4 separate regions of the Homo sapiens genome follow, and all the other regions are reported to be linked to region 4. The links are microRNA targets in miRTarBase. Many come from high-throughput screens and were not tested one by one. Region 4 holds a microRNA gene; each other region holds the end of a gene's coding sequence. Distances are from middle to middle.

Region 1 (3,185 bases), 11 Mb from region 4:
ACAGTGCTGACCTGGACTGTGACCCGATTCTTCCCCCATCCCTGCAAACCTCTTATGTCTTCCTGGGTATTGTTTTAGCCCTGATAGGCGCTATTTTCCTCCTGGTTTTGTATTTGAACCGCAAGGGGATAAAAAAGTGGATGCATAACATCAGAGATGCCTGCAGGGATCACATGGAAGGGTATCATTACAGATATGAAATCAATGCGGACCCCAGATTAACGAACCTCAGTTCTAACTCGGATGTCTGAGAAATATTAGAGGACAGACCAAGGACAACTCTGCATGAGATGTAGACTTAAGCTTTATCCCTACTAGGCTTGCTCCACTTTCATCCTCCACTATAGATACAACGGACTTTGACTAAAAGCAGTGAAGGGGATTTGCTTCCTTGTTATGTAAAGTTTCTCGGTGTGTTCTGTTAATGTAAGACGATGAACAGTTGTGTATAGTGTTTTACCCTCTTCTTTTTCTTGGAACTCCTCAACACGTATGGAGGGATTTTTCAGGTTTCAGCATGAACATGGGCTTCTTGCTGTCTGTCTCTCTCTCAGTACAGTTCAAGGTGTAGCAAGTGTACCCACACAGATAGCATTCAACAAAAGCTGCCTCAACTTTTTCGAGAAAAATACTTTATTCATAAATATCAGTTTTATTCTCATGTACCTAAGTTGTGGAGAAAATAATTGCATCCTATAAACTGCCTGCAGACGTTAGCAGGCTCTTCAAAATAACTCCATGGTGCACAGGAGCACCTGCATCCAAGAGCATGCTTACATTTTACTGTTCTGCATATTACAAAAAATAACTTGCAACTTCATAACTTCTTTGACAAAGTAAATTACTTTTTTGATTGCAGTTTATATGAAAATGTACTGATTTTTTTTTAATAAACTGCATCGAGATCCAACCGACTGAATTGTTAAAAAAAAAAAAAATAAAGATTCTTAAAAGAATTACAGTGTGTGCAAGTTTGCTTTGAAAAAAGGATGAAGGGCAGGAGTATTCAATGGTCTTGGTTCCGATGATAATTATTACTTAACATAGCTGAGAATCAAACTGTAGCAATGTCTAATATAAATAGACTTGGGAGATCGTTTTGAAATGGTGGATCCTTTTAGTATTTAAATGGAGAGTTTGAGTATTCATGTGACTGTATGGTCCCAAAGTTAATGCTATTTATGAAACAGTTTTGTAAGAACATAATGAAGTTGGTAAAAGCTAAGCGTTCTGCACAATAAACAGTTCCCAGTTTGGGGCTTTTTCAAGGCTAATGAAGTTATTGTTGGTCTAGAAAAATAGTATTTACTTAATAAAACTCTGTTTGAAATTGTTCTGTGGATTTTTAGAGCAGAATTTGAAACAAATGTAATGCAAATAAATATAAAGATAAAGTGTCTTAAAGACAATATTCTGAAATAAAAGATATAAAATATAATTTAAAAAATATTTCTCAATGTCTTAATGTAAATTGAAACTTAGATTTTCTTGAGGATATTTTCAAAAAAACATTTAAAGTGGAACATAAATGTTCTTTAGTTTATCAGAGACCCAGCTAATATGTTTAAAAAGTTGACTTGACATGGTTGAATATGAACTTGAGGAAATAACCACAGATAAATGTCTACATCTGTAAACACGTGTCTCAAGTATTTATAGGTTCTTATCTTCAGTTCAGTGTTTAAGAATTTGAGGATATTTTGATTTTAGCTAAGCTGTTCATAATGTAAGTATATACACCTTTGTGAAGAATAAATCACATTTAGGTGTAAATACAGGCAATCATTAATTGATACATCCATAATATACAAGGCTTTTATTATTTTTTCAGTTTATTATCTGTCATTTAATCTGAAAAGTAAATTCCATTAATCAGTCTTCAGGCTCTTTTATCAAGTGATTTAAATGTAGCCATTATTGCTTAACTGAAAGTATTAGGTAAACTTGCATCAGTAAGTCTTAGGGCTTGCTTTTCCTTTGAACTGGTTATGTCCTTCAGTGCTTTATGTTTGAAATAAAATCTACATTTTCATATTTTTATAAATAAAATAGGATCAGATAGTATTTTAGGTTCTAGAAATCTTTGCTGATTCCTTCTTTGAATTAAATTCAGAAATTTTCAAAGTAGGGCTAAAAATAAGTAAATCTTCCTTTTTATAGGTTAGAATATATAGTCAGAATACAAAGCTGTAATTCCTTAAATTCCATCAGGCTTGTTTTGTGAAATATAGTATTTATTATTTAAGGGTTATATTTCAGATCCTATAATTACCTCAGAAAAAGCTAAATATTTGGCACTTAAAATTCCATCAAACAGTTTAAGTGTTCATCAGAAATTCCTAAACTGTCTGGTTGCCATTATTTGGTAAGAACAATGAGATACTAATCTGTCAAAAATAGTGACCACTATCTTAGTAAACTGTTGATGGACTTAGTAAGTCTTCTGATATTGTAGGAAACAAATTATAATATTGATAGAGCCTCTATTGAGAAGAATTGTTTCTTCATCACATGATAATCTAACAGTTTAAAGTGGAGCTTTATCTAAGAACCAGGGAAGCAGTAGATTCATTAGTCTAGCTTTTCTCATCAACTCTTTGAAGCAATGATGAATCTGATAAAGTGAAGCCAAGTTTTCCCTGTTAGGTAGATGGCTTCTTTGAAGTTATAATTTATTGCTTCTTTTTCATCCCCCTACTTATTCTCTTGTTTGGACTTTCCAATTGCTACTGCTTTGTTTTCCATCACATCACTCCTTCCTGTTCTCCAAAATATGGAAATAAAAAAGTCAATTAAAAGAACACCTTATTCTTAAGATAAAAAATTGTTATTATTTGACAACTAATTAATGTTTTGCAGCCCTAATATTCTTAAGTCTATAAGCTTATAAAACATTCTAAGTTCCTTGGAAGATAGAGGCTATATAAATTCAATAAGTATAAGGGAATATGGGAAAAATAAAAGTATCACTTTATTTAAAAATAAGACAAGTCTGTTTGTTTTAAATACTGTTCTTACTATTAATGCATTGTTGACTCTAGAAACCTGCAAGTATCCATTTTTAAAATTTTATTTTAGTTGGTAATACTCTTTATTACTGAACGTAAAATTTTCAACATAAAACACCCTTCATTTATCCTTTACAAGTTTCATTTGAAGAAAGTTAGAAAAAATACTTAGAAATT
Region 2 (3,185 bases), not on the chromosome of region 4:
TTTCTTTTTATTTCATAAGTTTTAAAATAGATTTAAAGGCTATAGGATTATTAAGTCAAGTAACATACATTGAAAATAAGTTTCAAAAAAGATCTTGTATGTGTGTGTTTTAAGGGCTTGGTACATAATTTAAAATTACATGTTTGTAAATTCACCTGCTCTTTTATAAATAACCCATAATTTTTAAAGTGTACTTAGTAACAAAATTCTTCATTTACTTTGTGTGATTATATTTCTACATAGGTGTCAAATTAGAAAGTTACTGTTTAGAAACATTTAATAGTGTTTATATTTTATTCTGTTATTGTTAAAGTGCTAAGGAAATTCCTGAAGATGTAGATATGGAAGAAGAAAAAGAAAGTGAAGATTCAGATGAAGAAAATGATTTTACCGAAAAAGTCCAGGATACAAGTAACACAGGTTTAGGAGAAGACATTATACATCAGTTGTCAAAATCTGAAGAAAAAGAACTGAGAAAATTTAGGAAAATAGACTACAGCTGGATAGCTGCCCTTTAAGCCTTGGAGATGGGGAGGATCCTTGGACTTTGTGTTTTTGATTGTATGTTGATATTCTAAAAACATCTATTTTAATGTTATTTCTGTTCTAAAAATAAGATAATAAATATTAACAAACTTTGCTTTTTTAAAAAACTGATAATATGAACATGTATTTGCATCATGCTTTACAGTTACTGGATCATTGATATACCACATCATCTCATTTTTTTATTTTGAGTCACACATCAGCCTTATAAAACAAGTAGGTATTTTCTTCACAGGTGATACAGCAGAACTGAGACTTGAACTGTACAGCATATGTCCCCTAAGCTGCAGTTTGGAGATACGAAAAGATTTGAAAGTTAAAAGGCTTTGTTGACATAATTGTTTTAACACAAATTCATTTGGTGGCCAAATGTGACCTGAGCTGGAGTGAGGTTTCTTTAGTCCTGATTTATTCCTCTTAGTGTATTTATTTCTCTCAGAGAAATTTAGAGACGAGTTGATTATGTGGTGTTCCACAAACCTCACTGAGGATATTATATAATAATATGGGCTGCCTAAAATTCTGAATTCAGATGATCTGACCCAAAGTCCAGTTGCTAGTAGAAAACGATCCAGATCCCCTGTTTTAGTTAAAGCAGTGAAGCTGCTACATCTTAACCACCTAGCATTTTGAGTTTTCCACTTCCCTAATGCACTTTTGTAAAATTTATATTTAGAAGTTAGCACAAAAACAAAGCGTTTGTAAGAGCACATCTCAATGAATGTTCACAAAAATTGCTGCAAATGGCTTTTTAGTTTGTGCTGTAGACCAAATGTTTGTTGTGCCCCCCTAAAATTCAAATGTTGGAATCTAATCCTCAATGTGGTATTTGGAGATGGGGCCTTTGGGAGATGATTAGGTCATGAGACTGGAGCCTTTGTGAATAGGATAAATGCTGTTACAAAAGAGACACTGGAGAGCTTCTTTGCCCCTTCTAACACGTGGGGATACAGCAAGAAGAAAACCATCTGTGAACTATGAAGTGGGGCCTCACCAAACAGCAAATCTGGTGCCTTTTTGTTAGACTTTCCGACTTCTGGAACTGAGACATAAGTTTCTGTTTATAAACCACCCGGTCTGTAGCATCCTAAACAGACTTAAAGTGTTTTTGAATCACTATTTATGTAAAATCTTAACTTTTTTTTTTTCAAGTCCCCAACCCCCACCTCGGACTCGTAAGTGGCTGGGACTACAGGCACTCACCACCACACCTGGCTATTTTTTAAATTTTTTGTAGAGATGTCTTGCTATGTTACCCAGGCTAGTCTCAAACTCTTTGGCCTCAAGTGATCCTCCGACCTTGGCTACATTTTTTAAAAATAAGCTACATTGAGATTTGAGATGTAACTCACAAACCATACAATTCATGCATTTAAAGAGGAAAATTTAGTGGGTTTTAATACGTTCAGTCTTGGACACCATCACCACAATCAATTTTAGAACATTTTCATCACCCCAAAACTAGCCATTTCCCTCAGCCTCCTTCACCTCACCAACAATGCAACAACTCATCCTATCTCTGTAAATTTGCCTATTCTGGACATTTCATGTAAATGGACTCATACAATATGTGATCTTTTGTAAGTGGCTGCTTTCATTCAGCATCCATGTTGTAGATATATCAGTACTTCATTCCTTTTTATTTTCACTTTTGTTAGTATACCTATGAGGGGAATTACTGGGTTATTTGGTAACTATGTTTAACCTTTTGAAGAACCACCAGATTTTACATATCAGCTGCAGCATTTTACATTATTTACATTATGGCACATAAATTGCTCCACAGTCATCCGTTAAATTGAGTCCCTTTCTACTGGTGGTGGGATGGAAGGTGGAAATTAAAAAAAAATTGAGATCCCTTTCAGGGGTGCTTTTGTTGTTTTAAGTCTATTTTTTTAAGGGTAGTTTTAGGTCAAGAAAATTGAAAGTACGGAGATTTCCCATATACCCTCTCCCCCAACGCATGCAATAGCCTACCCCATTATCAACATCTCTGGTGCACCAGAGTGGTACATTTGTTACACTTGAAGAACCTACCTCAACCCATCATAATCACCCAAAGTCTAATTTGAATTAGTGTTCAGTCTTGGTGTAATTCTGTGGGTTTATGCAACATATAATAATATGTATCCATCAGTATAGTATTACACGAGTATTTTCACTGCCATCAAAATGCAGCGTTAGTTTTTGAGGCCAGCCTTTGAGGTTTGTTCTGATCCCAGGAGGACCCATTTTAGCTGTCTCTTTCCTTGTTTTCTTTGTTTCTGGTAAACTAGCTAGTTTATGGTTTAGCTTGTTGTTCTAATGGAGCTACCAGTCTCCTCTTAATTGCTTACCACCCAAATCCCCATTGTTTTTGAGGCTTATGTCAGAACTGTATTCTTATGGACTGCCTCTTGCCCCTGGGCAAGATCTCTGAGCCACTGCTCCAGAACCATGAGTAGGCACAAAGGCCCAGTTCTCTCAAGAGTGACACCCCTGCTTTACAAATTGAGCAGAGGCAGTAGCCTACAAGCAAGCTGGGGCAGTGGCGACCAGAGCTCCAGTATTCTTAGCCTACCATCCTTGGAGTAGAGGCTCCACTCTGTGAGTAGGGTCTTGGTGAAGGAAGAGAGATTCCAACCTCTGGCCTGGAATTT
Region 3 (3,185 bases), not on the chromosome of region 4:
ATGTACTGTTAGTGTGGTTTTCAGGTATTGTACAGTTGCTTTGTAAAATAGTAAAGCACTTAGGAGTCAGAATTAAATACACCTCTTTTGTTCGTTGCTAATGTATGTAGTAAGAACTCGAATCGGATTATTCCCTGAGGGATAGCAGCTTTCAACTTCTGTGTTGAGAATCTCAGAAGTTAAAAAAAAATGTTGAGATCAAAATCAGTATTCTTAGGTTTCAGATGAACTGTCTGGATGAAGGCACTTGTTTATTCTTATGAATGATAAAATGTTTGAAGAGGTGGGAAGAGAAGCATTAATAATAAATAGTTTTTAATTCTGAAATGTTTAAATTTTAGGTCAACCGGGAGAAAACCGAGTGACTCTGATATTTTTCCTTGGGGGCGTAACCTTCGCTGAAATTGCTGCCCTGCGATTTCTCTCCCAGTTGGAAGATGGAGGTACAGAATATGTCATTGCCACCACTAAACTAATGAATGGAACCAGTTGGATAGAGGCTCTGATGGAAAAACCTTTCTAGGATGTTCAGAGGAGACTTAACAAGTGTACTGCAGAATAAACTACCTCTTTGAAGAAATTGCTGAAAGGAAGTAAAACCCCATAGAAGAAACATGGGAATACAGAATATATTCTGGGGTCAGCTTCTTAAATTATACTACTGTTTACTGCTTTCTCCGTCTCTTTTGTATTCCCTTTTTTTTTTTCCTTTGAGACGGAGTCTTGCTCTGTCACCCAGACTAGAGTGCAGTGGCACGGTCTCACCTCACTGCAACCTCCACCTCCTAGGTTCAAGCAATTCTCCTGCCTCAGCCTCCTGAGTAGCTGGGACTACAGGCATGCACCACCACACCCGGCTAATTTTTGTATTTTTAGTAGCCATGGTGTTTCACCATGTTGGCCAGGCTGGTCTCAAACTCCTGACCTCAGGTGATCCACCTGCCTCGGCCTCCCACAGTGCTGGGATTACAGGCCTGAGCCACCGTGCCTGGCCCCTAATCTGCTGAAGAAAGAAGAATAGAAGAAAATCAACCTGAGTAAAAGCAGCACTGGTTTTGAGTTTTCTAAGCTCAGGGTCTTCATTAGAGACCTCTGGAAATACATTAAGGATGGTGGGGGTAGATAATCCATTCAGCCAGACAAACGGGGCCAGCTCTTAAAATAAGAAAGCTGAGACTGAGGAGGTGAAACTGAAAATAAAAAGAGAAAGTTCATCCTCTAATCCCCAGTGCTGTATTTCTTCAAGGCGCATCAGGCCTAGGACAGTGGTTAAGTGTTGGGAGCTGGAGATCATTTTATCACTGAGTTGAGATTTCTTTTTCCTGCAGAGTGTGGGAGATTATATTTAGGGTCATCAGTCACTGTCGCAACTGATCACTAAGGCAAGTTTGCTTCCTTCTACTTCTTACAAAGCAAGAGGTTTAGGGGAGCTTCTTGCCCAGAAACAAAGTTTATGCTCTATGTGATCAGCTACATCTCCTTAGGTTCCATACTTATCAGGGGCTTTTGACATGGAAGAATGTGATAATTGGGGAGCAACCTTCTGAGAATTCAGCCTTTGAAGTAATTCAAAGACAGTTTCTTAGCACACACGTTAACTCCAGACACAGCAGTGGTGGGTGCCTCCATTGAGGTTTCCGTTTTCTCTTCTGTCCATCAAGGGCCCAACATCCAACTGGTCCCACAGTGAGCAGGGGCAACTCTTGCTTCTTCAGCATCTGGCCACTTCGTTTCCATGGTAACTGCCACGTGTACTTTTCTAGCAGTCTGTGGCCACTCCGTACTCAGCTGAAAACACTGTTTCAGCCCCCTCTCTGGTGACCTCAGCCTTCTCCAGGTGTATCTCTTGATGATCTTGGAGACCAGCAGCCACAGCTGCTGCTACTCCTGCAGGAGACTGTCAGGCTGTGGTGGGGGGCAGGGGTGTTGGAGGAGAAGTTGAAAATCCGTGTGTTCTCTGCCCCTCTGCTCCTCCATCTTAGCTTCTGGAGGAGTTAAGGCACCAAGGGCACCAAGTCAGGTTGGCAGTTTTGCTGCCCTTGCCCAAGCCTCCAGCAAAACTAGCTGGTCCCCTGCTTTGCTGGGTCCCAGCCAGGTGTGATTTTGGTTGTTGATTAGTAACCACACATTGTTTTTCCCCACCTTTTTCATTAGTGGAGGTTTTTGTTTTGTTTTGTTTTTGTTTGTTTGAGACAGAGTCTCACGCTCTTTTCAGACTGGAGTGCAGTGGTGCGATGTCAGCTCACTGCAACCTCCACTTCCCGGGTTCAGACGATTCTCATGCCTCAGCCTCCTGAGTAGCTGGGATTACAGATGTGCACCACCACACCTGGCTAATTTTTGTATTTTTAGTAGAGATGGGGTTTCACCATATTGGCCAGGCTGGTCTCAAACTCCTGACCTCAGGCGATTGGCCCACCTCGGCCTCCCAAAGTGCTGGGATTACAGGTGTGAACCACCGTGCCCGGCCCATTAGTGGAGTTCTGATGGGCACGGTAAATATTATTAATGAAAGAGAAATTCTGTATACTTTTTTAAAAATCTCTTTAATGAAAGAATGAAGAGTGGCAGAGATAATAATTGAAAGATTAGTTTCTCATGGAATTAATTTGGCCTTGATATTCAGTATTTGGAAATGTCTTAAAGAAAACCATTTTCATTGTAGAAAATCCTTTTTTAAATACTTGTTATATCCCAGGGAGATTAGTTTATACCTTCCACCTCAGGCAGTCATCAGCTGCTTTAGAGAATGGAATCCACCCTGCCCCTCCATTTTTTGGTTCCTGGGGCTCAATTCAAGTCTGGTCAAGTCTCCCTGGCTGGGGATTCTGTCCTGGGAACAGATACTCAGTTGTAGTCTCATGTGTCTGCACTCACCCAAGACTCTATATACTTGCTTGCTCAGAGCATAGTTAGGGCAGCTCCTAAAAATGCATTCAGCAGAAGACTGAAAAACTTCAATTGCTTCATTTGTATGCAAATAGAAAATGGTAGATAATTATATATTATACGCCTTTGTGTAAGTTCATTTAATACTTGAAGCAGTCTTTGTCTCAAAAGAGTATGCCCTTACTGAGAAAGGATATGTGAACGGTACATTTATTGTTGGGGAGAGTGGATTGTTTACATCATGTCTGGACTTTTGTCTAGTTGGGTAGACAGTTCTACACCAGCAGCCCCCTTAA
Region 4 (3,185 bases):
TCTGTCCACGTAGTGGTAGAAACATAATACTGTAAACTTTAGAAGTTATTTTTTTTGTAAAATAAAAAATTGCATCCAGATCTTATTTCAATTATGAATAACACACTGTTGATGTTATTTTATTTATTTATATGTATATCTATATATATATATAGATATATTTTTTTTGAGATGGTAGGCTCGCTCTGTCGCCCAGGCTGGAGTTCAGTGGCACCATTTTGGCTCACCACAACCTCTCCCTCTCAGGTTCAAGCAATTCTCAGCCACCTCAGTAGCTGGGATTACAGGCACGTGCCACCACACCCAGCTAATTTTTGTATTTTTAATGGAGACAGGGTTTCACCATGTTGTTCAGATTGATCTCAAACTCCTGACCTCAAGTGATCCACCTGCCTCAGCCTCCTAAAGTGCTGGGATTACAGGCGTAAGCCACCGTGCCTGGACTGTTGATGTTACTTTAAAATAGTAGTTTACATTATTACTGTGGAAATGTGGGGCACAAGACATAAGAAATACTAGGTATTAATTTTGAAACTACCCGGAATGGCTTATGGAGGTTTGTATTTGTTGATTTAAAAATAATTAAAAATGCTGTAATTTTTACAAATTAAAAAGTTCCCATAACTAATTATTTACATGAACAAAATGAACAGATAAAAATGAAAAATGGAAAATTTAGGGGCAGTAAGGTAAGGAAGAGGATATAAAATAACATAGGAAGAGAACCTAAAGAAAGTGAAGGTCAAAGATTTAGGAAAAGTTTAACCATTTCTTCAAACCTATAGTCATTTACCTAGGAAATACGGTCGGGTGACCCCAGAAAAACAGCCGAGTTATTTGCTCCAGGGGTTTTCAGCTTACCAATTAAAATAGACCACATTCTCAGTTCCAGACCCAGGGCCTGGCAGAGGCCTCTCCAAGCCCCTTGCATTTCAGTGGCAGTTGATGAACCTCTCATGGCCCAGCATGACTAATAGAGTTTTGATAGCTTTATGTATGAGGGAAACTTAAAGACATTTCTAACACATATTTCTCTCCATCCCAGGTATTAGAAGAAATGCTACTATTTTAAATAGTGGTATGATCATACTGTTTTAGTATCACTTCTTTATCATCATCATCAATGGGTATTAAACAGGGAAAAGAAACTCTTTTACATTAATGGAAACACTATATATTTATAAAATACTGTGTTTTAGAGGACAAAAGATATCACTTTCATATCTTTTTAAAGTGTCTAGTTTCTATATAAGTGTATCCTTAATATTTCTATTATACACTTAAATATTTCTCTTATACACTTAAATATTTCTATTTAAGTGTATAATATTAAAAATATCCGCCATAAGAAAAATACGCATTTACAAAAAAGGAAAATTAGAAATTATGTCCATCACAGAAATCTTCTACAGGATTCTGAATCTTAAAATTGTCTTCATATATTTAGGATAGAATTTGATGTATTTATTATTTTTAAGAGATATGAGTTATTGCATAAAGCTAAGTTAAAAGTTCAACCAAATGGAAACAGTATCCACAAATTCCTAAAATACTATTCTAATCATCTGAAACAAGAATAGGTTTTTCAAATAATAGAGTTAGTTGAATCAGTATTTGTTTGTTTTAGACACTTTATTAAGCTGAGAGCTGCTACTTTATTACTTAAACACTAAGCCTATAAGGAAATAAAAGGGGTTTAATCCAAGTAATGTGAAAATAACTAACCCTTCATCTTACTTTTTTCCCCCAAATAATTGTGGTTTCATTAATGGATTTTTTTTTTGTGAATGGGTCTAAAAAACACCTATTTTGAAACTGCAGAAAGGGCAGGACAAAACAAATCACTTCATAGATTTTTCTGGGAAATATTGCCCTACTACGCTTTTAAAAAAAATAAAAATACTGTAACACATTTCCTCATTTCTCTTACGAATACTTTCTTTTTGATATTGCAAATTCTATGCATACACAGAGCACCTCCTCAATGCCCTGCTGAAGCCCTCTAAAAATGTACAGACATGGTTTTAAAGTGATTTAATTTATACCATTTTAATTCAGCTTTGTAAAAATGTATCAAAGAGATAGCAAGGTATTCAGTTTTAGTAAACAAGATAATTGCTCCTAAAGTAGCCCCTTGAAGTCCGAGGCAGTAGGCAGCTGCAAACATCCGACTGAAAGCCCATCTGTGGCTTCACAGCTTCCAGTCGAGGATGTTTACAGTCGCTCACTGTCAACAGCAATATACCTTCTTTAGCCTTCTGTTGGGTTAACCTGAAGAAGTAATCCCAGCAAGTGTTTCCAAGATGTGCAGGCAACGATTCTGTAAAGTACTGAAGCCTCATTCAAACAGCAATATTCTAGAAAATGTCTCAAATTCAAAACAAATAAGAAGGCTCATGGATGTCTATTATTCATCACCGAGCTTCTAGTTTCTATAAAATTTTGTGATATACTAAAACAACATATATAAATGGTTTCATTCATTATTGTTAGCCACAAGAAGTAAATAGGCAAGTGGCCAGGTTACTTAATATGATTTCAACATGCATTATGTAATTACAATCCTTTAAGCAAAAGTGACCAAACACAGAAACTAAATTATCTTAACAGCGTAAAGCGTACATTTAACATCAAATACTGCAGTTGAGTGAACTTAGACTACCGTGAAAATATAAAAGGTCTACTTGGAAAGTTATAAACTCTGACAAAAAAAAAAAAGACTTACATGCTGCTTTTATAGATCACTTTTGCTCTAAAGTCTGCTCCCAGAGAGGACTTGTACAGTCAGCTGATTTTTGAAAGAGTAAGCAACAATCAGGAGAAAAACAGAAAAGAATAACGAGGTATAACACAGGCATATATCAGTATGTGGATCAAAGTTTCCCACTGGAAAAACACAGAACCTATCACTCACAACAGTGACGCACATTAACTCCAAATTTGAATGTTTTGAATTCCACTCCCATTCTCTTATGAAAATAAATGAGGAAAACTGAAGGTTAAGCTCTATCAGTCACTACTTTCCTGAAGTAATTCAAAACCATTCTGAATCTAGTGAAAGATTAAGTTGATACAGAAAAGTGGGTGTGCCTTTCCCTGAGATTTGTTTTTAGATGAAGTTACCGTAAGGTTCTTAAATTGTGTAAGTCTTAGTAGTTTGTGATCTCAAACCCGAAACAAAAATA

What was found. The annotated mature microRNA hsa-miR-30a-5p reads UGUAAACAUCCUCGACUGGAAG and lies in region 4 at 2,198-2,219, opposite strand. An mRNA with a match to its seed (bases 2 to 7 or 8) in the 3' UTR can be bound and repressed. Matches are read on the target gene's strand: a 7mer-m8 pairs with bases 2 to 8, a 7mer-A1 pairs with bases 2 to 7 and ends in A, and an 8mer does both.
Region 1: miRTarBase lists TPBG as a target of hsa-miR-30a-5p. The part of its 3' UTR that is shown has no 7-base or 8-base seed match.
Region 2: miRTarBase lists WDR75 as a target of hsa-miR-30a-5p. The part of its 3' UTR that is shown has no 7-base or 8-base seed match.
Region 3: the mRNA of VPS33A is a reported target of hsa-miR-30a-5p. Seed matches in the 3' UTR shown: 7mer-m8 at 663-669 and 8mer at 3,121-3,128.

Annotation. Positions count from the first base shown.
Region 1 is chr6:82,365,974-82,369,158 of GRCh38, forward strand. It overlaps TPBG (trophoblast glycoprotein), which reads left to right. Exons shown (of 2, transcript NM_001376922.1): 2 at 1-1,447. The coding sequence ends at 251. Among named protein-coding and RNA genes, the nearest start is that of TPBG, 3.7 kb to the left of the region's middle. RefSeq lists an enhancer at 1-258.
Region 2 is chr2:189,474,900-189,478,084 of GRCh38, forward strand. It overlaps WDR75 (WD repeat domain 75), which reads left to right. Exons shown (of 21, transcript NM_032168.3): 21 at 314-653. The coding sequence ends at 518. Among named protein-coding and RNA genes, the nearest start is that of WDR75, 35 kb to the left of the region's middle.
Region 3 is chr12:122,229,584-122,232,768 of GRCh38, reverse strand. VPS33A (VPS33A core subunit of CORVET and HOPS complexes) reads left to right here. Exons shown (of 13, transcript NM_022916.6): 13 at 342-3,185. The coding sequence ends at 523. Among named protein-coding and RNA genes, the nearest start is that of DIABLO, 5.1 kb to the right of the region's middle.
Region 4 is chr6:71,401,398-71,404,582 of GRCh38, forward strand. MIR30A (microRNA 30a) reads right to left here and starts at 2,224; the gene lies at 2,154-2,224. RefSeq lists an enhancer at 692-1,220.